Homo sapiens: one gene and its partners. The protein of the gene in region 3 purifies or fractionates together with the protein of the main gene of each other region. This does not show direct contact. Each region holds a gene or a part of one and is shown on either strand. Other genes may lie near its edges. The genes, in order: APAF1, DHFR, LGI1, EDEM3, LRFN3, MTR and GAK.

The links.
Region 1: the proteins of LGI1 (region 3) and APAF1 purify together in Homo sapiens (affinity purification with mass spectrometry; one large-scale study listed by BioGRID and IntAct). This does not show direct contact.
Region 2: the proteins of LGI1 (region 3) and DHFR purify together in Homo sapiens (affinity purification with mass spectrometry; one large-scale study listed by BioGRID and IntAct). This does not show direct contact.
Region 4: the proteins of LGI1 (region 3) and EDEM3 purify together in Homo sapiens (affinity purification with mass spectrometry; one large-scale study listed by BioGRID and IntAct). This does not show direct contact.
Region 5: the proteins of LGI1 (region 3) and LRFN3 purify together in Homo sapiens (affinity purification with mass spectrometry; one large-scale study listed by BioGRID and IntAct). This does not show direct contact.
Region 6: the proteins of LGI1 (region 3) and MTR purify together in Homo sapiens (affinity purification with mass spectrometry; one large-scale study listed by BioGRID and IntAct). This does not show direct contact.
Region 7: the proteins of LGI1 (region 3) and GAK purify together in Homo sapiens (affinity purification with mass spectrometry; one large-scale study listed by BioGRID and IntAct). This does not show direct contact.

The regions. Positions count from the first base shown.
Region 1 is NC_000012.12:98,679,790-98,683,289, reverse strand, and holds part of APAF1 (apoptotic protease-activating factor 1), read right to left. Parts: intron 3,014-3,500; coding exon 2,888-3,013; intron 148-2,887; coding exon 16-147; intron 1-15. UniProt on the Homo sapiens protein: Oligomeric Apaf-1 mediates the cytochrome c-dependent autocatalytic activation of pro-caspase-9 (Apaf-3), leading to the activation of caspase-3 and apoptosis. This activation requires ATP. Isoform 6 is less effective in inducing apoptosis.
Region 2 is NC_000005.10:80,644,984-80,648,483, reverse strand, and holds part of DHFR (dihydrofolate reductase), read left to right. Parts: intron 1-3,500.
Region 3 is NC_000010.11:93,795,936-93,798,659, forward strand, and holds the end of LGI1 (leucine-rich glioma-inactivated protein 1 isoform 1 precursor), read left to right. Parts: exon of another isoform or gene 1-1,032; coding exon 1,033-1,868; 3' UTR 1,869-2,224; downstream 2,225-2,724. UniProt on the Homo sapiens protein: Regulates voltage-gated potassium channels assembled from KCNA1, KCNA4 and KCNAB1. It slows down channel inactivation by precluding channel closure mediated by the KCNAB1 subunit.
Region 4 is NC_000001.11:184,748,359-184,751,858, forward strand, and holds part of EDEM3 (ER degradation-enhancing alpha-mannosidase-like protein 3 isoform 2 precursor), read right to left. Parts: intron 1,235-3,500; coding exon 1,189-1,234; intron 1-1,188. UniProt on the Homo sapiens protein: Involved in endoplasmic reticulum-associated degradation (ERAD). Accelerates the glycoprotein ERAD by proteasomes, by catalyzing mannose trimming from Man8GlcNAc2 to Man7GlcNAc2 in the N-glycans.
Region 5 is NC_000019.10:35,942,874-35,946,373, reverse strand, and holds part of LRFN3 (leucine-rich repeat and fibronectin type-III domain-containing protein 3 precursor), read right to left. Parts: intron 1,827-3,500; coding exon 1,355-1,826; 3' UTR 1-1,354. UniProt on the Homo sapiens protein: Cell adhesion molecule that mediates homophilic cell-cell adhesion in a Ca(2+)-independent manner. Promotes neurite outgrowth in hippocampal neurons.
Region 6 is NC_000001.11:236,847,292-236,850,791, reverse strand, and holds part of MTR (methionine synthase), read right to left. Parts: intron 449-3,500; coding exon 269-448; intron 1-268. UniProt on the Homo sapiens protein: Catalyzes the transfer of a methyl group from methylcob(III)alamin (MeCbl) to homocysteine, yielding enzyme-bound cob(I)alamin and methionine in the cytosol. MeCbl is an active form of cobalamin (vitamin B12) used as a cofactor for methionine biosynthesis.
Region 7 is NC_000004.12:922,317-925,816, reverse strand, and holds part of GAK (cyclin-G-associated kinase), read left to right. Parts: intron 1-3,500. UniProt on the Homo sapiens protein: Associates with cyclin G and CDK5. Seems to act as an auxilin homolog that is involved in the uncoating of clathrin-coated vesicles by Hsc70 in non-neuronal cells. Expression oscillates slightly during the cell cycle, peaking at G1.

The DNA of each region.
Region 1 (3,500 bases), on a different chromosome or scaffold from region 3:
AATATCCACACTTACTTTGAGGAAGCAGTCACTTGACCCAGTGGCTAAGAGAAGATGATGACTACTGTTGGTGAAATGGCAGCAATTGACTTGCTCTGAGTGCTCATCATAGGTGTGTACTAGTTCCCCAGTCATAGAATTCCAAATCTAAAGAGAAAAGAGAAAAAATTTACAAATATCCATTATTTTCAAAGGGAGAACAGAGGGGCAAAGCAATGTCCATTGCTTTGCAAATGCTATCTTATCCTGTCATAGCAGATTTTCCTAGTTGGACAAGATGCTAATGAAACCTCTCCCCTTTCTAAAATATGGCAATATTTTGCCTTAATGTTTAAAAAAAATTATTTGCAAATATACATATATGTACCTATAGCATAACTAGAGTGTCATGAACACATGACATTTCTTAAGGGCAAGATTTCACATGTTTATATGAATGAAAGCAGGCAGAGAAGTGCTTTAAAGAGGTTAGCATAATAGATTTCTGGTCAGAAGGGTTGAGCCCAAGAGCTGGCTCTACCACTTATGACTTGTGTGTCACAAATCCCTAACTTACCTGCATCTCAGTTCCCTCTTCTGTAAAATGGGGATATCTATACCTCTCCCACACAATTTAAGATATCAAATGAGATAATGAACATGACAAGTGTTCTATGGACTTCAAGGTACCATATAAATAAGTAAAGGCAGATTGCTTAGTTAAAAAAAATAAAGGTTTTATAGTCTGAGAGAAACCCAGCTTTCAACCCTATTACTGTTCCCAGTTTAATGTAAGCTTGAGCAAGAGACTTCATCTCTGAATCTGCGTCCTCTTCTGTAAACGGGATCGACACTTAACCCTGCAAGCTGTAGCAGGAAATTGATAATGTAATATGACAAAGTGTGTAGTATTTATAGCCTCTTATAGTGTTCAGTTTTCAGTAAAAAGTAATCATCAGGCCGGGCGCGGTGGCTCACGCCTGTAATCCCAGCACTTTGGGAGGCCGAGGCGGGCAGATCACGAGGTCAGGAGATCAACACCATCCTGGCTAACATGGTGAAACCCCGTCTCTACTAAAAATACAAAAAATTAGCCAGGCGCGGTGGCGGCCGCCTGTAGTCCCAGCTACTCGGGAGGCTGAGGCAGGAGAATGGCATGAACCCGGGAGTCGGAGCTTGCAGTGAGCCGAGATAGCGCCACTGCAGTTCAACCTGGGCGAAAGAGCGAGACTCCGTCTCAAAAAAAAAAAAAAAAAAACAAAAAAATTAATCATCATTCTAGTTACTATGTAAGACAACTAAGCAGTCTATGCCATATAACAACAAACAAAAGAAATAAATTACCTAATGAACCTTCACTGGGATTTTGACTTTTTAGAGGTACTAATGTCCTTTGGCATTTCCTTTGTATGTTATCAAAGCACTGATTAGAATCCCCAGAGGTCCAGAGAGTTTATCTTATTTTAAAGTTCTTTAATAGGTATTTCTACCTCTGGCTTAGAAAACAGAAACTCATTATTATTTCCTTTTACTCCATGTAGCTCTGACTTTAGAACTGCCCTCAGTGGCCACCTCCAAGTCTGACTCAGAGTCAGAGTAGACACTACAGAGTGAATTAACTGTTGGTTAAGCCACGAGTCCAATCTATCAAGAGGTAGATTTTTCCAAGGTCTCAAATTTAGTCTGGACATTCCATAGCCCTCTTCCAGTAGGTGAAAACTTCAGGAAAACACCCAAGGCAAATTTCTTGCCCACTCCACCTAGCTACATCCAGTACTCCAGATTTAACCCCTTTGAAAAAGGGTTAAAGTAAGGTCTGTCTTCCATATATCAGTGATAACCCCCACAAGCCTTCAGTTTCTCTTGAATTCTATATTAGTATAAATGCTCCTGGTAGAAGCCAAATTTAGGAACAAGAGAATACTTAACAAAAATAAAAATTACTCTCTGGCGGGGCACAGTGGCTCATGCCTATAATCTCAGCACTTTGGGAGTCAAAGGCAGGCGGATCACTTGAGGCCAGAAGTTCAATACCAGCCTGACCAACATGGCAAAACTCTGTCTCTACCAAAACTACAAAAATTAGCTGGGCATGGTGGTGCACACCTGTGATCTCAGCTACTCAAGAGGCTGAGGCATAAGAATCAATTGAATCCTGGAGGCAGAGATTGCAGTGAGCCGAGATTGTACCACTGCACTCCAGTCTGGGTGTCAGAGCAAGACTCTGCCTCAAAATAAATAAGTAAAAATTACTCTGTTTACTTTTCTCTATTTATGTTTTTAGACCAGTAACGTAATTATTAGTTTGTTCATCCACCTGGTTTTCCACTGAATATATAAGCCAGTTCATAAGCAAATTAAAAAAATTGGGGTTGCATTTTAAAATTGTATCTTACAACAGGAATCCCCAAGTTTGTGCAGCAACACTCCTAATCACAATGCACTCAAAGATTTCAACTGATATTTAACCCATGGACTTGTCTATTAATGGAAGACAAACTCACTAATTTGTCATTGCTTTTCCCCACTGCTTGTTTAATCCTGAGGTGATCAACCTAGGCATTTTTGCTGGTGTTTAAAAATAAAGAATTTTCAGGCCACGCACAGTGGCTCATACCTATAATCCTAACACTTTGGAAGGCTGTGGCAGGAGGATCACTTGAGCCCAGGAATTGGAGTTTACAGTGAGCTATGATCATGCCACTGCCCTCCAGCCTGGGTCACAGAGCAAAATCCTGTCTCTTTAAAAAAAAGTAAAGAATTTTCAGATAGTGTTAATTTACAATGAATCAGGTTAGTAGATCAACAGGTGAGAGTCCTTTAACTCTACTTACTCTGGTCTCATGATCATGGAAAAATAAAATGAATTCTGTTGTGATTACAACTCAAGAGGAAAAGATTTTCCTACCTTCACTTTTTTATCCACTGAGCAGGTTGCTATAAATCTGTCATCTGTAGAGAATGCACAACAAAGCACTTCATCCTCATGAGCCTTGATTTCTAGAAGTTTCTCTCCTGTTTCAGCTTTGAACACCTGCACAAGTAACAATAAAATATTTTTTATAATAAACTGCTTAACTACTGGTCATCATTCAATAAAAATCTTTAAGTGAGTTTAATCATTGTCATTTTGCAAAACAGAAAGGAACCTTGGCAAAGCTACTCCCAAAATCAGAATTTCTGTCAGAATGTGTATGCCTTCACATAACTAGAGAACTATTCACTGTTACATGTTTGTAAATATCAATGAAAATGTTACAGGATCTTTGGGGTGTTGATTTTCTGGCCAGAAACTTCTGTGGCCGGTGGCGCCTTTGCCCAAGTTTTGCTTGGGCCCACTGGTCTTGTTTCACCCACTTGGCCTGACAGGCTGCATTCAGCTCACACTACCAGCCTGGGTCCCAAGCCTGCCAAGGGCGAGTCAGGCGTGGAACAGCGAGGCGTGTGTGAGTGAGCGTGGGGTCCAGCCACTGCGCACAGACGTGCTGACTGCTGCAGCGGGGCAGGCAGCTCCAGGTGCC
Region 2 (3,500 bases), on a different chromosome or scaffold from region 3:
TTCACATGGTGGCAGGAAGGAGAAGTGCCGAGCAAAGGGGGAAAGGCCCCTTATAAAACCATCAGATCTCATGAGAACTTAACTATCACGAGAACATCATGGGGGGTACCACCCCCCATAATTCATTTATCTCCACCTGGTATCACCCTTGACATGTGGGGATTATTACAATTCAAGGTGAGATTTTGGCGGAGACACAGCCAAACCATATCAGGATCTAAGGGGAAGGTCTGGGATCTGGCATGTTAATCATTCTTAGTCTAATAATATAATCACCAAAAAGAATGCAGTATCCTAGGGCACTACTTTCTTGGGAACAGTAGTCATAGTATTCTTTTCCCATGTGTATTGGTGAAGATTCAACCAAAGAAGCAGAACCAGTAGTAGATAGATACAGGTATATTAAAGAGTTTTATTGCGAGGAATTGGCTTACACAATTATGGGGGCTGGGTACGTGAGTCCAAAAATCTGTAAAACGGGCCATCAGAAAGGACAAGCTGGAATTCTCCAGCAGGGGCTGAAGTGGTACAGGTGAAATTTCTTCAGGAAAGCCTCAACTCTACTCTTAAAGCCTTTAAACTGATTGATTCAGCCCACTCAGATTAAAGTCTGACCGGGCACAGTGGCTAACCCCTGCAATCCCAGCACTTTGGAAGGCCAAGGCAGGTGGATCACTTGAGCTCAGGAGTTTGAGACCAACCGTGCAACATAATGAAACCCCGTCTCTACAAACAAATTAGCCAGGCGTGGTGGCATGTACCTGTAGTTTCCAGGAGGCAGAGGTTGCAGTGAGCCAAGATAGTACCACTGCGCTCCAGCCTAGGCAACAGAGTGAGATCCTGTCTCAAAAAAATTTAAAAAAAAAACTGAATTGTAATCACATCTACAAAATGCCTTCAAAGCAACACCTAGATACAGTATCTGAATAACCAAGGACTATATCCTAGTCAAGTTTAACACTATGGGAAGGAAAGAACTACACAGCTATATAGGCTAAGGGGATTCAGGCTTACATAGATTTTCTCCCAAGTTCTTCCTAGAATGGCATAGGTAAAAACCGAGAAGAAAGTGTATAGAATATTTGCATTGATTGCCTCTGGGCGACGGGGCAGATTTGTTGATGTGCATCTTGCTGCCTGCTTCCATCTTCATGCTGTTCTTTCTTCTGGTTGCTAGGATGCTCTGATTATCTCTTTCCTTGGTAGATTTCAAATTCACAGACTATATCGCCATTCCAAGAAACTCTTTAATGATATTTTTGAATACTACTCAAGTTTGTTTATGGCTAGCTTAAGCTCAAACAGAAAGAAATCTCAGTGGGGGAGATGTTCACTTGAGCCAGCATTTCTCCTCGAATATGATGAGTGTAATTTTTTTTTACGACCTTCCTGTGATGCATGTAATTGGGTTTGGTTGCTTCTTCTGTATTTATATATAACATATGTTGGTGTCTTGTGCTTTTTTTTTTAAGGCTGAGAAAATTTAAAGTCTTTGTTATCAAGCATGCCAGGGAAATAGTGATACCAGTTAGTAAAAAATGTTAGAGCTCTTTTTTGTTGTTGTTCTTCCTTCCACTTCCTTACTTGTTGGTCAGTCCCACACATATAGTGAACAGCTGCTGAGTGCCAGGCACTGCAGGGTCCTGAATAAGAGGGCAGAGATTTATACATGGAAATCACTTGCTTATGCCAACTCTAAAGATACTTCATTTTTCACCCCTCTCCCCCAATGTAAGAAGAAACTGAATCCTCAAAGTGATCACAAAATTTTCTACCAAACACTATAGTAATTTAGGGTAAATATTTCTTAAGTAAGGTATTGAGGGAAAATGCTTTTCCAAAGTTGTCTAGACAGTCAAGTTGTGGCTTTAAAAGAACTTGAGGTGAGAAGGGTGGGAATGGCCACTGATGAGTACAGAATGTTTTCTTTTTTGGTGTGATGGAACTGTTCTAAAAGTAGATAGGAGTGATGCTTGCTCGACTCTGAATCTACTAAACGTCACTGAACTATACACTTTAAAAGGGTAAATGTTATGGTGTGTGATTTATATCAATAAAGTGGCTTTTAAAAGTCTTTGGAACCAGCCGGGCACAGTGGCTCACATCTGTAATCCCAGCACTTTGGGAGGCCGAGGTGGGCAGATCACGAGGTCAGGTGTTCGAGACCAGCCTGGCCAACATAGCAAAACCCCGTCTCTACTGAAAATACAAAAATTAGCCAGGCGTGGTGGCAAGCACCTGTAATCCCAGCTACTCGGGAAGCTGAGGCAGGAGAAGCTCTTGAACCAGGAGGCAGAAGTTGCAGTGAGCCAAGACTATACCACTGCACTCCAGCCTGGGCAACAGAGCAAGACTCCGTCTCAAAAAAAAAAAAAAAACCTCGTTGGAACCAAAAATTAAATAAACAAGTTTTACTGTAATGCTATAGTAGCCTGGACACCATCTTTAGAAAATCCAAAATTGCCTCCATTATGTAAGATTTAAATAGTCTCCCATCCACGAAAGTTAACTTAATTTCATGTTATAATTTTTTACGATCTCACTATCAGAATCTCCACAGTGATTAAAACTTCTTGAAGGTGCAGTTCTCTCTCCCCCTACCACTCACACACTTGGAGTAGCAAACACTGACCTGGTTTCTGATGTCTACTATGGCACCTAATAACTTTGTGACTTTAGGCAGGTTACAAGTAAGCCTTGTTGAACCTCTTTCCTTACCTATTAAATGAGATGAATAATGACAACTTTTTTGGGTGATTTTGAAGACTCACTGAAATTTTGTATGTAAAGTTTCTGGCACACAGAAGGGTATAGATATCAGTTCCTACCCCCACCCCCATAAACTTGCTACTTTATATCTTATAGAACATACACATTAATATTAATATTAATGAAATCACAGTGAACAGACTCATGATCTCATTTTCACCTTAACATATTACTTTGTTCTTGTTTCCCTCCATCTTGAGACAAAAATCCACTGCCACCTAAATCAACTCTCTCATCTCCCCTGACTTGATTCTGGATTCCTTTTTTTCTATCTTCACCTTGCTCTGCTGTCCCAACCTTTTAGTATTATCAAAGGCAAAATAAAAATTTTGCGATGAATTCTCTAAATTTAACATTGTGTTTGGGAAGAAAAAATTGCAGTTTAGGGCATACATGCAGACAAGTGACCTTCCATATGTCTGAAGAACAAAGGGAAGGTTAGAGGTTTTATTTAAAAGGAGAAATGTTACTGCTCTTTGAGAAAGTTCATTGGCACTACTAAGGTTTGGGGGAGCTAGCAAGCTCCGACTGGCGAGCAGTGAGTGGTGGGCAAAATCAGTTCTAGAGTTGCAGCAAGTTATCTCAGAAGCTATAGATAAAACTGGTTTCAGGTTACAACAAGCAGTTCCAGCAGTCAGGCTTACAGAGAATTACATTCTTGGAGCAATGTTTTATACCCTGAGTGCTTTTTTCCCCTGGCCCCTCAACTCTGATTTAGTTGGGTATGACAA
Region 3 (2,724 bases):
TGTAGAACTTTCTGCCCCGCACTAGCGCTGTAGTCAGAAGAGGCCTAAAGCCCAGATTTGTTCAGCTGTCTCTGGATTTTCTAGAGCCAAACTCCTGCAAGATCAGAATCTACTGATAAATGTCAAACTCTTCCCCAAAGGATACCAAGCTAGGCCACTGACAGATCCCACATCATTTTCTGTGATTTTCCAAAATAACTTTCAGGAGCAGTGCCCATGGCTGCACCCTTCTTTCGATTTTTTTAAAGATTCCTTTTCCTTCTCTTCACTCCTGCCACCAGTGACCTAAAGCTCCAGAAAAGTGACAAGTGGCATCTCCTTTCTTTGCAGGGGAAAGGCAAATTATTCTAGAGCAGGAAGCAGTTCAGACTTAGAGCAAAACAATTACAGTAGAGCCATGGGCTACCCAGACCACAACGCTAGCCTTTGGTTATCTAAGATCTTAGATAAACCAAATTTGAAGTCCTGGAATAGCTAACTTGTCCCCAGCTTGGGTTAAAAGCATAGAGATGCTGGTAGGCCTGGCTTTGAATCCCCAACTCTGCCTTCTGCTACCAGAACAGCCTCTCTGAGCTTCAGTTTACTCATGTGGAAAAAGGATAATATTTATCTCTTAAGATTGTTGGGAAAATTAATGAGGTAAATTGAGAAAGCACATAATAGATGCTCAGTAAACAGTAGTTTTCATTAGAATTATGATTAACTCATTTGTGTCAGGGAAACTAATGCTTTCTTTCTGCAAGAAGTAAGAGGAGAACACTCGGGCCATAGCTGTGTGTCCTGAACGTCTAGCGCAGGCTAGATATGACATTAACAACTCAATTGTTGGCAACAAGGCCCCACGAGGCACAAAGGCACGGAACTTTAGGACACTGCTGCCATTGGGCTTTGGAGACCAGCCTTGCCTAATCAACCAAGGAGATCTCTTGTTTCAGGCTGATTTGGGTGGAAGTTGTATGGCCCCAGCCCGCATGTTTACATGCTCCAAAAGAGGATGGCCACACAACTAATCTCTCCTTTGTCTTTTCCCAGGCACATCCACTGTAGTATGCAAGCCTATAGTCATTGAAACTCAGCTCTATGTTATTGTGGCCCAGCTGTTTGGTGGCTCTCACATCTATAAGCGAGACAGTTTTGCAAATAAATTCATAAAAATCCAGGATATTGAAATTCTCAAAATCCGAAAACCCAATGACATTGAAACATTCAAGATTGAAAACAACTGGTACTTTGTTGTTGCTGACAGTTCAAAAGCTGGTTTTACTACCATTTACAAATGGAACGGAAACGGATTCTACTCCCATCAATCCTTACACGCGTGGTACAGGGACACTGATGTGGAATATCTAGAAATAGTCAGAACACCTCAGACACTCAGAACGCCTCATTTAATTCTGTCTAGTAGTTCCCAGCGTCCTGTAATTTATCAGTGGAACAAAGCAACACAATTATTCACTAACCAAACTGACATTCCTAACATGGAGGATGTGTACGCAGTGAAGCACTTCTCAGTGAAAGGGGACGTGTACATTTGCTTGACAAGATTCATTGGTGATTCCAAAGTCATGAAATGGGGAGGCTCCTCGTTCCAGGATATTCAGAGGATGCCATCGCGAGGATCCATGGTGTTCCAGCCTCTTCAAATAAATAATTACCAATATGCAATTCTTGGAAGTGATTACTCCTTTACTCAAGTGTATAACTGGGATGCAGAGAAAGCCAAATTTGTGAAATTTCAGGAATTAAATGTTCAGGCACCAAGATCATTCACACATGTGTCCATTAATAAGCGTAATTTTCTTTTTGCTTCCAGTTTTAAGGGAAATACACAGATTTACAAACATGTCATAGTTGACTTAAGCGCATGAGACACCAAATTCTGTGGCTGCCATCAGAAATTTTCTACAGTACATGACCCGGATGAACTCAATGCATGATGACTCTTCTTATCACACTTGCAAATGAATGCCTTTCAAACATTGAGACTGCTAGAACCAAGCACTACCAGTATCTCCATCCTTAACTGTCCAGTCCAGTGATGTGGGAAGTTACCTTTTATAAGACAAAATTTAATTGTGTAACTGTTCTTTGCAGTGAAGATGTGTAAATAAGCGTTTAATGGTATCTGTTACTCCAAAAAGAAATATTAATATGTACTTTTCCATTTATTTATTCATGTGTACAGAAACAACTGCCAAATAAAATGTTTACATTTTCTTTCATATCCCAGAGGTAATTATTTACAGGAGCTGTTTCATTCTTGTTGTTGGTATGTTGAAGAAATAGTTTTATATAATAGTATTGTATTTGGATCAAGGATTTACGATGTGAAGAATGAGTGAAGATAAAATTATGGGTAATATGATATTGATTACCCATTGATTATGACCAGGTTTATCTGTGGCTGGATCAGCTGATTTTGAACATTCAAAGGTATTTCCAAAGGTCATGGCCTTTAGGGATAATTTGAGGTGAAATGGTGACAAATTAAAAGAAAGGTAGAGAAATTTGCCTACTACAAGAAGACTGATTTGAAATTAAGGACAGCAAGACCCATCCTTTCCTGACTGATAAGCCCAGCTAAAATCATCACTCAGACAATTTCTAGGAGAAAGTAAAATCAAGAATTAGGATCTCAATACCCTATTTAGGGTCTTTCTAAACATCTGACAGCTGATAGAGATTGTAACCTTACAGTGCTTGCCTCAAATGTACCTGTCATGA
Region 4 (3,500 bases), on a different chromosome or scaffold from region 3:
ATCACTTGAACCTGGGAGGTGGTGGCTGCAGTGAGCTGAGATAGTGCCGCTATACTCCACAGCCTGGGCGACAGAGCACAACTCCGTCTCAAAAAAAAAAACAAAAAACAAAAAACAAAAAAAACATTAAGGGAATGACTGAGGTCTTGAGAAATAAATTTGAAACTGTGTTTTTAATGTTGAAATGTATCCAAAAAAAATCATATCCTAAAAACATTAAGAACTCAAAATGTGCTCTCTCCAAATTTACAATATAAAAGAGAACGAGGACTGTCAAATATAAAACATGTTTTAAAACTAAAAATGCATAAATTACATATATTTAGATGTTCATAGATAACAATGATGTTAGTGTATGAAGATATTTGGTTAATATATGATAAAAAATGGATTCACAGAATCAGTTGAAAAATATTTTAAGCAGAACTAAAGCTAGTCCTCTGCCAAACTTTCCCAACTACATTTTATACGTTGTAATCATAGAAGAAAATCTGCTGACATATTTTAAAATGTAAAAACAAGGTTATAAGGGATAAGTTTCAGGATAATATGCTTAAACTCTTTTCAAATTACAATTTATGTGCAAAATTTTTTTTGAATTCCAGAATTTGCTATTTCATCTACGTTGTTGCACAACAGATCTCCAGAACTTTTCATCTTGTAAAACTGAAACTGCTATTTAATCTTAAGTGAGCCCTAAAACATTTTTAAATAATATGAATCAGCAAACTAAAAAGCAAAATATATTCAGTGCAGAGTCCATGAGGATACAATTAGGACAGAGGCTAAGTAACAATTTCTCTTTTAAGCAATGGTTTTCTTCAGTGTATAAATATTGTAAACATTTTTTTAAATTAAGAGAATAATCTCCCTTAAGACCAGAGATAACATCTTCATGTATATATCCACAATATCTAGCTATATAAAGCACTCAATGATAATTGTTGATGGCACCCAAGGAAGCTGTTTAAATAATGAAGTTTCATAATCTAATTTCAATTTATTCTTATCTGTTCAATAAACTGGTTCCCTAAAAACCACTACCAGAAAGACTATTTTTGCCCTGTTTTTTAAAAACTTCCTTTTAAAAAATGTAATTGTATTGTAGGTTTCAAAATTCCCAGTTGACTGTGCTCACATAATAATCAACTCACATAAATGGTAGGTAAAGATAAGCTTCCTACTTACCATATAGTTACCATAAGCATGATCAAACATTTCCAGTACTTGATTCCTAATTTTAAAAGAGCAGAAATGGAAAAAAAAAAAAAAAAAGGTAAGTATATTCTATTTATTATCTTTCAAAAAGTTAATTCTTCCTCATAAAAAATATACCAATAAAAACAAAAGAAAAATTTAGGTAGAAAGGGACATAAACAGAATCAGAAACTACAACAGCTAGCAGACAAGCTTTCATGAACTCACCACACAGAGCTGAGCCAAACTTTAATGATTACTAGTAATTTATGTACAATTCATCTTATAATTTTTCCTAAGAAAACTGATGAATGATAGATGCCATCATCAGAGAAGGAAATCTGATGCAGAAAAACAATGACCTCTTAACACAATTATTTAACGTATCTGTCTTGAAGCGGGGGTTTTGCTGGACAGCCCTTTAAAAAAACCATTATTATTGCCATTTATTGCTTCCCCTATATGTTCTACTAAGAGAGAGGTACACAGGTGTGTAGTGACATGAAATAACAACGCTTTATGAAGCCTCTGCCTTTGCACTTACATTGAATAAACCACTAATGCCTAGTTTAAGTACATATTTATTAATGTTTGTCATATTTTCAAAAGATACTTTTTATGATGTGCTCTACTCTAAAAAAACTGTCAAAAATCAAATAAATAGTATTCACTTCCAAAATGAGAAAACTAATGCTCAAAAAGAGAGTTGTGTGTTTTGGCGAATTCTGTTTCACAAAATCTCCGTAACCACTGTTTAAAATGGAGATGTCTGATCACTACACCAGAATTTTACTAAATCAAAACCTGTAAGGTTGCGACTGAGGAAGCAGCCTTTCAATTAAGCACTCTCAAGTTCAGGGACTTGAGGACTACAGGAAAAAGTACAAGTTAATTGTATGACCAGACAAGGCCAAATAATTAGCAAAGGAAAACACAGCTTAACAATTTTTTATTAACTTTTTCTTTTTTTTTTGAGACAGGGTCTCACTCTGTCACACCTAGGCTAGAGTGCAGTGGCACGATCTCAGCTCACTGCAACCTTCACCTCCCAGGTTCAAGCGATTCTCCTGCCTCAGCCTCCCGAGTAGCTGGGATTACAGGCGTCTGCCACCATGCCTGGCTAATTTTTGCATTTTCAGTAGAGACAGGGTTTTACCACGTTGGCCAGGCTGGTCTCGAACTCCTGACCTCATGTGATCCACCCGCCTCAGCCTCCCAAAGTGCTGGGATTACAGGTGTGAGTTACCACGCCCGGCCTATTAACTTTTCTTTTACCAAAGTTCCAATCACTGATGGCAAGAATTGAAAAAAGTGTTAAAGAAATTGCTGACTATATTTTTATTTGCCTCCTGTTATACTGCAATTGTCATTTTTAAAACTATAATCACAGATTATGAAATACTGGTAATAATAGAGCTAGCAAACAGAAAAGACCTCAGTTCCAGATCCTGACTATGAACACCAACAAAATCAAGTACACTCAAACTTGTGAACGAATTAAGTCCTGACAACATATGAATAATAACCACTTAAAAACATTTCATTATTTAAAAAAAGACCTTACCACCACTTTGCTAAAGCACTAATTCTTTGTAAGTTTACATATATATATATGTTTATATATATATAATTTTTATATTTGTGGTTTACAGCTCTAGACTCTTATCCTGTCCTAAGCAGAAAAAAAAAAGTTTAAAATGTCCCTTTCAGGAACTCATATCAATGAATGGAAGATGGAAGTCCTCTTTTTTTTCCTTCCCTGAAATGGAATACGAGATTATTACCAAGAAGTAGAAATTCCTATAATTGGCAATGGTAGTGCCTAGACATGTATATTACAAATGACATAAGCTTTAACTTGCTAACTCAACTTTACAAGCATTCAATTTTCAAGACTGTAAGTAAATCATGATTGCATACAAGGAGAATACACTATTTTCCAATCCTTACATTTATGCAGCATATGATGAGCAAATTTTAGAACACATATTTCAAAGTGGAGCTATTTAATATCATTGCTCTTACACATAGAAGCCTAACAAAGTCACATTTAAATACAGAATGGTATAATAATTACTATACTGAACAGAAAAAAAAATTTCCATAATGTTTTATCTATTCAAAAACTGGATTAAAATGTATTGGAAATCAGACCCAGTTCAAAAATTACACCACTCTTCAGTAATTTCTGTAAGTCGGCTTTTTCTCTTTTTTTGAGACAGAGTTTTGCTCTTGTTGCCCGGGCTGGAGTGCAATGGCACGATCTCTGCTCGCTGCAACCTTCGCCTCCAGGTTCAAGCGAT
Region 5 (3,500 bases), on a different chromosome or scaffold from region 3:
TAGTGAGACCCCATCTGTAAAAAAAAAAAAGAAAAAAGAAAAAATGTCCCATAGTGGGGACTTGGAATCATCCCCCACAAGAAGCCGTCTTAACCCCAGCAGCGTCAGTTCCCATCTCTGCTGACAAAGCCCTCATTTCTATTTCCAGCTTCAGCCTCAGACCAGGGGTCCTGCACCCTCCTGAATGCCACATCCTGGACATCCTCAGGGCCCCCTACACCTACCAAGTTCCCCACTGGCCATATCATCTTTCCCAAACCTGCTCCTCCTCCCTGGTCCTATATGAGGGCAGTCCCCACCATCTTCCTGCCCCACCCCATGGCCCCGCAGCTCCATAACCCACCGCCTCAGCTTCCCACAGTTTCCCGAGTGTCTCTGTCAACCCACTCCCTTTTCTTGTTCCCTAGCCCAGCTGGTCCAACTTCGTCCTCACCCACCCAGGTCCCTGCCCCAGCTTCCCCTGGGGCTCCCAGCTTCAGTCTTCCCCTTGGGTCCACCCTACTCATAGCACTAGAAGGATCTTCCTGAAGCCCCAAACTGACCCCATTCCTCCCTTGCATACAACCCTCCATGGCTCCCTGGTATCATCAGGCCAGAGTCTGAGCTCCTCAGCCTGGAGGTCCTAGACCCTGCTCAACCCTCCTGCCTCACCTCTACCATAGCACCCCCAGTGCCCAGGGCACACCACCACCTTGCTTGTGCTGTGCCCTCTGCCTGAAAGAGCTTTCCTTCTGCTCTTTGCCCAGTTATCTCCTTCATATGTCATTCTCAGATCACATGTGTCCTCCTCCAGGAAGCCCTCCCTGACCACACCTGGGGCTGAGCAAGGGTACCTCTTCTGGACTGTCACAATCCCCCAGGCTTCCCTCATCCCCACATCCCTGGTCACTCTGTGCTATCACTGTCTGGGGATGTGTCTGTCTCCCATTTGACTTTAGGCCCCTGCGGGCAGGGCTCAGGGCTATCTGGATCACCACAGCATCCCCCAACCCAGGGCATGCTCAGAGCCGACACGCAGGGAACATCTATTGTCTGAATGGATCGCCATCCTCAGCCTCCTCCGGGGTCCTCAGACTGAACTGGGCGGGGAGGGGGTGTCTCCCCAAAGGAGGCATTCCCCAGCTCCAGACCCCTGCTCCGTCCCCCAACCCCCATAGACAGAGACGAGGGCAAGGGTCTTCGCCCAAGCTTGGAAAAATAGGACTTTCTTGTTTTGCCCCGGTGTCCCCGACACCCTCCCCATCAGAGTTTTAAAAACCATGAGCGATTTGGTGAGTTTGAGGCCAGGTCCCACAGGGTGTCCGGGTCCTGCTGTCCGTGGGGCCAGAGGACCCTTAGAGGGGGGGGCGCCTGGCTAGGGTCCCACAGGTTCGTGGCCGGGCCCCCAGGGCTCGCAGTCCAGCTGGACCACGGTGTGGGCCCTGAGCGCCGCGGGCTCCGGGGCGGGCGGGGCGGGCGTGGGCGTGGGGCCCAGGGCGCCGTTGGTCTGGGAGCAAACGCTGCTAACAGGCGCGGGAATCTTGGCCTTGCCGGGGGGCTGGCCGCCGTGCACCTTGTAGCGCATTAGCAGCACGAAGATGAAGACCAGTACCGAGGCTACGATGACGCCGCCCAGCGCGATGATCATCGTGCCGCCCAGGAAGGGAGCGTGCGGCGCCCCGCATGGCCGCAGCGCAGGTTCGGTGGAGAAGCGGGCGCAGCCCACAGGCCGCGTGGCCGTGAGCCCCGTGGCGCTGTCCTCATACACGGCGAGCACGCACAGATCGTAGGTCCGGCCTGACGCCAGGTCCGTCAGCAGGAACGAGCGGCTCTCCGCCGGGATCATCCTGCAGGGCAGGCAGGTGGGGGTCAGGTCTCAGGCTGCCCAGCCCCCAACCTGTGCTTCCCCCACCAAACTCCCTGCGGGGCTAGACTTCCCACCAGTCCACTCCTTCATTTCATTCTACCCAATGAGCTCCCTCTCACCAACATCCCAATTCCCTTTGGTCTGACATCCCATTCAGCCACCTGACTGATACCCCTCCAGTCTGTTGGCCAATTTCACTCTAGCCCACCCTCTCACACGTCCTCATAGCCTGCTGCCCATTTTCACTCTAGTCCCACCACCCAATTTCTCTAACAGCTCACCACGTGAGTTCTTCCAATCCATCCTGTTTCTTTTCTTTCTTTCTTTCTGTTTTCTTATAGACAGGGTCTTGCTCTGTTGCCCAAGCTGGAGTGCAGTGGCATGATCACAGCTCACTGCAGCCTCTGACTCCTGGACTCAAGCCATCCTCCGGCCTCAGCCTCCTGAGTAGCAGGAACTACAGGTGTGCACTACCATGCCCAGCTAATTTTTAAATTTTTTGTAGAGACAGGCTCTTGCTATATTGCCCAGGCTGGTCTCAAACTCCTGGCCTCAAGGCAGTCCAGCCTCCTGCCTTGGCCTCCTTAAGTGTTGGGATTACAGGCGTGAGCCACCACACCTTGCCGGTTTCATTTTATACCCAACTGCCCAATTTCCCTTTTGCACTGCCCACTCAATTTCCCTCCAGCCTGCAGCCCAGCTCCGCTCTAGCCTCCCTGCCCAATTTTGCCCCAATCCTCTGCCTGATTTCACTCTGGTCCCACTGCCAGTCATCTCTCCAGTTCACCACCCAATTCTGCTCTAACCCTGTCCAATTTCCATCTAATTTAATCCTTTTGTCTTCTAGCCACCCCCATCCAATTTCCCCCACATTTTACCTCCCAGTCTCCTCCAGACGCTTGCCAATTTCCCTCTGGTTCCCCTATTTCCTGCAGCCTATGCCAAATTTCCCTTTTCCAGCTGCCTGATTTTCCTCTAGTGTACAGCTAGGATTCTCTCCAATCAAACCACCTGATCTCCCTGTACCCCTGTTGCCCGATTTCCTTGTAACCTGCCAATAAATGTCCCCCTAGCCCTATTGCCTTATTATGATGACTGTATTGATAGCCTGTTTTCCAATGAGTCCTGTCGTCTGATTCCCTTTTCATTAAACTAATGTGCCTCCGTCACTACTGCTTTCTTTTTCTCCCTGTTGCCTTATTTCTTTCCGGCTCTGTCACCTGCTTCTCTTTTATCTCTGTTGGCTGGTTTCTATTTATCTTTTTCTTTCTTGTTTCCTTTTAATCCTTACCACCCAATTTCACTATAGTTTCTTTTGTAGTTGGGCACCCTGTTGGAGAGTTGACTTATCACCTGTTTTATTCCTAGGCTATTCTAATGAGAGAGGTACAGGGAACTCCGTGGCCGCCTGGGGCAGGGTGACTGTCTAGGACAGCATTCATCCCATTCCCCACCTGGCAAGGTGGCCAGGACTTGTGTGACTTTTTTTTTTTTTTTTTGAGACGGAGTCTCACTCTGTCACCCAGGCTGGAGTGCAGTGGCACAGCCTCGGCTCACTGCAACCTCCGCCTCCCAGGTTCAAGCAATTCTCCTGCCTCAGCCTCCTGAGTAGCTGGGACTACAGGCGCGTGCCACCACACTCAGCTAATTTTTT
Region 6 (3,500 bases), on a different chromosome or scaffold from region 3:
GGCGTGATCCCAGCTCAATGCAACCTCCACCCTCCTGGGTTCAAGCGAGTTCATCAGGCTCTGTTATGTTCTCCAGTCTGTTTGTTACACAAGTTAAAACTCTACTAAAGAAAAAAAATAAGGTCTCCTACATTTCAGAAAAACAATTTACTAACTAAGAATGTTAACATTTCATCAGCCAATAAATATATAAGTTAGTTCTAACCATTCATTAGACCCATGGGACAAATTTGAGCCATGACTTGGGAGAGAACATGCCTACACTTACTTTAATGACTTTTGTTGCATGGATAAAATTAATGGCATACAAGTTGTGTTCCTCCATTCCAGTCCCAATGGTTAGGATATTAGGGTCAAAAATAATGTCATTTGGATTAAAGCCCAGTTTTTTCACAAGCAGATGGTAGGCCCGGGTGCACACTCTGATTTTTGTGTCTGTTTCTGTTGCCTAGGGAAAAGAGCAAAAGATGTAGTTTGAAATAGAAAAATTATCTATTAAAATATTAATATTAAATACCTGTTATTTTATTTTAATAAAATATTAATATTAAAATATTAAGTGTTATACATTAGAGCACATTTCACTCACTGAAAACACTCAAGTGTCAATGCTTGGATTTCACAGAAATCTAAATGCCAAGCAGCTTCCGATCACTTATCAAATTATCTCAGAGGAGAGACTGGTTTAAAGATCTCTTTGTGTTTTCACAAACACAGCAGCTATACTCTTTCTGCAAAAAATCAAACCTTAAACATATACACACATATGGTATATTATGAAAAAGCTTCTAAAAATACATGCATATGATAAAAAATCAAATACTACTAAAGAAGAGATTAACATGTAAGTGCCCCTTCCTCTCTTGACCTGACAGCAGTGTCACAACCTATCACCCAGGAAACACTGCCATTGCTTTCTCAGATCTTCTTGCAAAAACATTCTAAGCATATTCAAGGATATGCATTTATTCCTCACCTTCACCCATTTTAACACTGGCCTAACATGTGTCTTAAGTCATAAATACAAATTAGTCTTTACCTTCAAAATAATGTCCCTAAAAGGCAAAACACTAACTCCGGCAAGGCTCATCCCCCAGCTGCTTCCCAAAAGCCTCAGAATCTCAGCCTCCATCTCCAATCTCATCTCCTACCATTTGCCCTCTCCTCTACTCCGCACCTCCTACATTGCTCCTTTGGTGTTTTTGAAACCCGTCAAGCTTGTTCCTCCCTCAGCAACTTTCATTTATTGCTGCCACTACCAGAACATACCATGACATGGCTTTGTGCTTCACAGAACTAAGGCTTCTGCCCAAGTGCCCCCTTTTCAGAGCCTACCTTAAATCACCCTCTCTAAACCAGCCACTTCCACCCTTCCCCACCTCCTCCATTCTTCTTCGGAGTATTTCTTTCCAGAAATTGTATTATTTTGGCAACATCTTTAGTATTTTTCGTTGTTTTATTACTTGTTAATTGGTAAACTCCTCTCCCCTAGATAGAATGCCAGTCTTGCTTTATCCCCAGTGCCCTGAGCAGTGCCTGTCAAAGTAGGTGCTCAACATTATGTATGAATGCTGCTTTTACTCAAAGTATTTCTGAACTTTGTCATGGAAACTGTCTTCAGATCAAATTTACAACCTCAACACAGGGTATTCACCAAATTACATCCTGAATTATTTCTGGTTGTATGAAAAATCAAATCTACTCTTAAAAAATGATTACTTGCTATCACTCCAGAGATAAGAAAAAATAAGTCACAATTCTGAAGGTCAATTCTCAATGAACGCGAAAAATGTTCTTGAAAAATGGCCAACCCTACTGCAATCTATATTGCAGACTTCTGTGGAGATGAGGGGGTAGGGACACGGACATAGGTCAAGTGCATCTAGTGAGGCCCTAGACAACAGAAATGAGGAGTAGGGGAATTATGAAAAGAACTCTCTCTTAGATCTAGCCTTTTGATCACTTACTACTTTGGTATTCTTTTTCAACTGTTTTCTTTGGTCTCTTTAATCGCTCTCTGCAGCTGGTGGGGTGAGACTTCACCTCTACTTGGGAGGGAAGTGCCTCCAGGACTTAGCAGACAAAATGGCCCAGGGAAAGGGAGACAGGAAGTGGTCTCTGTGGCCTCACTGCACCCAGGCTTTAGGGAAGGTGGCGAGCTTTCGTCTTCCTTAATGGAATTTTCTCAATGCTTACTTCCTCTGCCTTCAGTTAGAGTGAAAAGGTTAAGGTTGAGACTGAGATGTATGTCAGAAAAAACTGGTCAGAAACAGCCCATTTGCAGCTGCCTTTAGGCTTGAACTTTTAAAGTCTACCCTTCACCAGACAGCCCAATAGAGTTCTAGGCTCTAGGTTCATGGCTCATCTAAGCTCACTAAGAGAGAAGGCACAGGGGCGACCAATGCTACTAGTATTACTGAGTAACCTAGTCTGGTTGGTAGATGAAGAAGTCAAGGTCCTGGTCATTCCTCATCTGAGCCATGAATATTATCTGGCCAAGCAGGGCAGGTTGAAGTGAACAGTATGTTACCCACAGGAGAGTAGGGTGTAGGGCCCAGCTGTATACCAAAGACAGCCCTGCTTGTGGGACAAGCAGGTGCATCCTCACAGGACAGGAATTCATTTCTAGAACCAAAACAGAGTCATCAACTCTAACCTCCATAAGGATGAAGCCCTTGTCAAATTGTTCTCATGGCGTCTAGCACAGTATCTGTGCCACATTAACAGATACTCAACCTCTGTCACTTGATTAAACAATGACTCTCAGAGTGAACACGGCATTGGTGTACAGGCCTTTGTCAGGAGCAGGTCATATCTCATATCACGTAAGGTTCACCAAGCTTCTGTCTTACTCCTCACCAGGGCTGTGGGACAGACACACTAATAAAGCCTCAATCGTGCTGGTGGATTTCAGAGATCCAGAATAGAAGTTCAGTAAAACAACGGAATGGCAGCTTTACTCCATCAGGAAGGGCTTTCAACTCTGGTTGCACATTACAATACCCTGGAGGGATTTCTGTTTGCTTGTTTTTTATAATAGTAACACCTCACCCTGAACCAGTTAAATCAGAATCTGGAGATGGGGTCTCAGCAAGTGTTTTGTAAAAGCCCCTTAGTGATGCTAATATAAAGCCAGGTGAGAACCACCAACAGGTGAGATGTGGCACCTTCTTCAGTTGGAGTAGAAGAAAAACTCAGTGAGATTCTAAGCAGCAAGAAGGAAGGAATAAATGCCATTTATAGCTTTATCAAACAGGTTTACTCTTAAGCCATAGAGAAGCTAGACTGTGACCAGTGAGTAGAAGGCTTTACTTAAGAAGCTCATGGCTCAGATTCTGCTAAAATATCACACACTCAGGCAGTAATGCAATAAAACAATTTTTGATTTGGTCATCAAGGCAGACACTGTGAGGAAGAGAAGGACAATGTGTAGAAGACATCTAGATTCTTTAATGTAGTCTGACAAGGAGCAGAGATCGAACAGGGCTAACTTCAGAGGT
Region 7 (3,500 bases), on a different chromosome or scaffold from region 3:
TTCCTCACGGCTCTGCAGGCTGGAAGTCCAGGCGCAAGGCGCCGGCAGATCTGGTGTCTGGTGAGGTCCAGCACCTTCTCGCTGTGTCCTCACAGGGCAGAAGGGGTGAGGGAGTGCTCTCTGGGGCAGTAATCCCAGTCCTGAGGGCTCCACCTTCATGGCCTAGTCACCCCCAAGGAGGCCCCACCTCCTAACACCATCACCTTGGGTATTAGGATTTCACACAGGAATTTTGGAGGGGACACAGATTCATTCTGTAGTGTTGTGAATTATGTGTGTATTGAAAATGTTGGTATGTGGTATTTTACGTTAGAAAAGTGTCTGTTTCTTAAAAGAGGCCGAGTTGATTAAAAAAGATACTCAGATCTGCCTGTAGTGGTCCTGTACTGACCTCACTGTCCCCCGGCACTCTGTCCCGTCCCCAGCGTGCTCCGTGCATCCTACACGCATCCTGGTGAGAGGTGTCCTCAGCCCTTTGCATGGACGCTGGTGGGCTGTGTGGGGGAAGGTTGCCCAGCTCTGCTCATGGGGCCTGCAGGCTGCTCGGGGGCACCAGACTCTAGTGTCCCAAGTCCTCAGAGTGTCCCCTGGGGGTTTGTTTTATTTGGACATTTTGATGGGTTTAAAAAGTGTCAAGCTTTGATTTGTGCCTTTCTGAGTAGCGAGTTTGGTAATGCTTATTTGCTGCTCAGCCTCCCCTTCTGGCATTGCACATTCATATCCTGTGCCTGTTATTTTTTTATTCTTATTTTTTTGAGATAGAGTCTTGTTGTGTTGCCCAGGCTGTAGTACAGGGGTGTGATCTCAGATCCTGGCAACCTCCTCCTGAGAGCAGCCCCCGGGCAGAACTCCACCCCCATGACCCAATCAGATCTCACAGGAGAGCACTCACTATCCTGAGAGCAGCCCCTGGGGGAACTCCACCACCACAACCCAATCAGATCTCACAGGAGAGCACTCACTATCCTGAGAGCAGCCCCCCGGGGGAACTCCACCCCCACGACCCAATCAGATCTCACAGGAGAGCACTCACTATCCTGAGAGCAGCCCCGGGAGGAACTCCACACCCATGGCCCAGTCAGATCTCACTATCCTGAGAGCAGCCACGCCATGGGGAACTCCGCCCCATAATCCGGTCACCTCCCACCAGGCCCCTCCTCCAACATTGAGGGTCACAAGTGAACATGAGATTTGCATGGGGACGCAGATCCAAACCGTATGTGCTGTTATGAATAAAGATCCAAACCGTGTCCGCTGTTATGAATAAAGATCCAAACCGTATCCGCTGTTATGAATAAAGGTGCCGAGAACATTTTTTTTCAAGTCTTTTTGTGGACGTGTGTTTTTCTTTGTCTTGGGTAAAAAATACCAAGGAGTAGGATTGCTGATTTACAGGTTGGATTTAGGTTGAACTTCACATGAAACAACCAAACCTCCTTCCACGGTAGCTGCACCATTTTACATTTCCACCAGCTGCAGTGGAGAGTTCCTGGCTCTCCACTTCCTCACCAGCATTTCTTGTGGTCTCTCATTTTGATTACATCCATTCTTGTGAGTGTGCAGTGGTGTCGATCTCATTGTGATTTCATTGGAATTTCCCTGATGATGATGTTCAGCAATTTTTTTTTTTTTTTTTTTTTGAGAGGGAGTCTTGCCCAGGCTGGAGTGCAGTGGCTCCATCTTGGCTCACGGCAAGCTCCACCTCCCAGGTTCAAACAATTCTCCTGCCTCAGCCTCCCAACTAGCTGGGATTAAAGGCATGCACCACCATGCCCAGCTAATTTTGTATTTTTTAGTAGAAATGGGGTGTCACTATGTTGGTCAGGCTGGTCTCAAACTCCTGACCTCAGGTCACCCGCCGGCCTTGGCCTCCCAAAGTGCTGGGATTACAGGCATGAGCCACGGCGCCTGGCCTTTTTGTCCATTTTTTATTGGGCAGGGAGTTTCTGCTTACTCTGGATACAGGTCTTATGTTTATATATTTATATAATTTATGTGAGAAAGAGAAGGCAAGCCTTAGCTGTGGTCACTCTGCTGTCCCAGGCCAGGCTGCCTCAGGGAACCTGGGCCTTGAGATTTGACCTGGCTTGAGCATTTGATGTCTCTGTGCCTCCACTCCCCACCCCTCCACTCCCTGCCCTTGAGATGAGGTCTTGCTTTGTTGCCCAGGCTGGAGTGCAGTGGCATGATCACAGCTCACCACAGTCTTGAACTCCCGGACTCAAGCGATCCTCCCACCTCAGCCTCCCAGGTAGCTGGGACCACAGGCACGCACCACCACGCCTGGCTAATTTTTAATTTATTTCTGGTAGAGATGGAGTCTTGTTATGTTGCCTGTAGGCTGTTCTCAGAACTCCTGGGCTCAAGTGATTCTCCCACCTCGGCCTCCCAAAGTGCTGGGATTGCAGGTGTCAGCCACTGTGCCTGGCCTGTGCCTGTTCCTTAATTGGCAGAGTGTGTGCTGTAAAATGTATATAACAGGGTCTTGGAGGTACCCGACATGCCATTCTTTAATGTCTTATACGTTACTATTATTTTTAAATAAACTGTATTATTTTGAGTTCATTGTAGGTTCCCACGCGGCTGTGAGAAAAGATGGAGATCTTTTCTATTTTAGACCCTTGCCTGGTTTCCCCAGTGGTGACGGTCGGGATGCTAACCCTGGTGCAGGTGAGGCTGTGGAAGTCTCCATCCCCGTAGGGAGCCCTCATGCCACCTCTCAGCCACGCCATTTCCTTACCCTCTGGAAACCTCTAGTCTTTGCTCTGTCTGTGATTTTGTCATTCGAAGGATGCAGTGTAAGGGGAAGTGCAGAATTCTTCAGGTAATTGTGTGTCAGTAGCTTGTTTCCCGTGGTGAGACTCCTCTGCGTGAGTGTGCACGGCTTGCCCAGCCAGCCACCCGTGGAAGGACATCTGGGCTGTTTCCTGTTTTGGCTACTACAGATAAAGCTGCTGTGACACTTGCGTATAGGTTTTTGTGTGAATATACGTTTTCATTTCTGGGATAAATGTTTAAGAGTGCAGTTGCTGGTTCATGTGTGGTAATTATGTGTTTAGTTTGTTAGAAAACTGCCAGATTGTTTTCTTGAGTGGCCATACATTCCCACCAGCAATGTAGGAGCGTATCAGCCTGGTTAGGCTGCCATAACAAAATACTCCAGACTGAGTGGGGAGCAGTAGAAATTCACTCTCGCAGTTCTGGAGGCTTGAAGGCCAAGAGCAAGATGCTGTCAGTGCTGATTCCAGGAGAGGCCTCTTTTGCTGGTTTGCAGATGCTGCCTTTTTTTTTTTTTTTTTTTTGAGATGGAGTCTCGCTCTGTCACCCAGACTGGAGTGCAGTGGCGCAATCTCAGCTCACTGCAACCTCTGCCTCCTGGGTTCAAGCAGTTCTCTTGCCTCAGTTTCCTGAGTAGCTGGGACTACAGGCGCCCACCACCATGCGCCGCTGATTTTTGTATTTTTAGTAGAGACGGGGTTTCACCATGTTTCCCAGGTTGG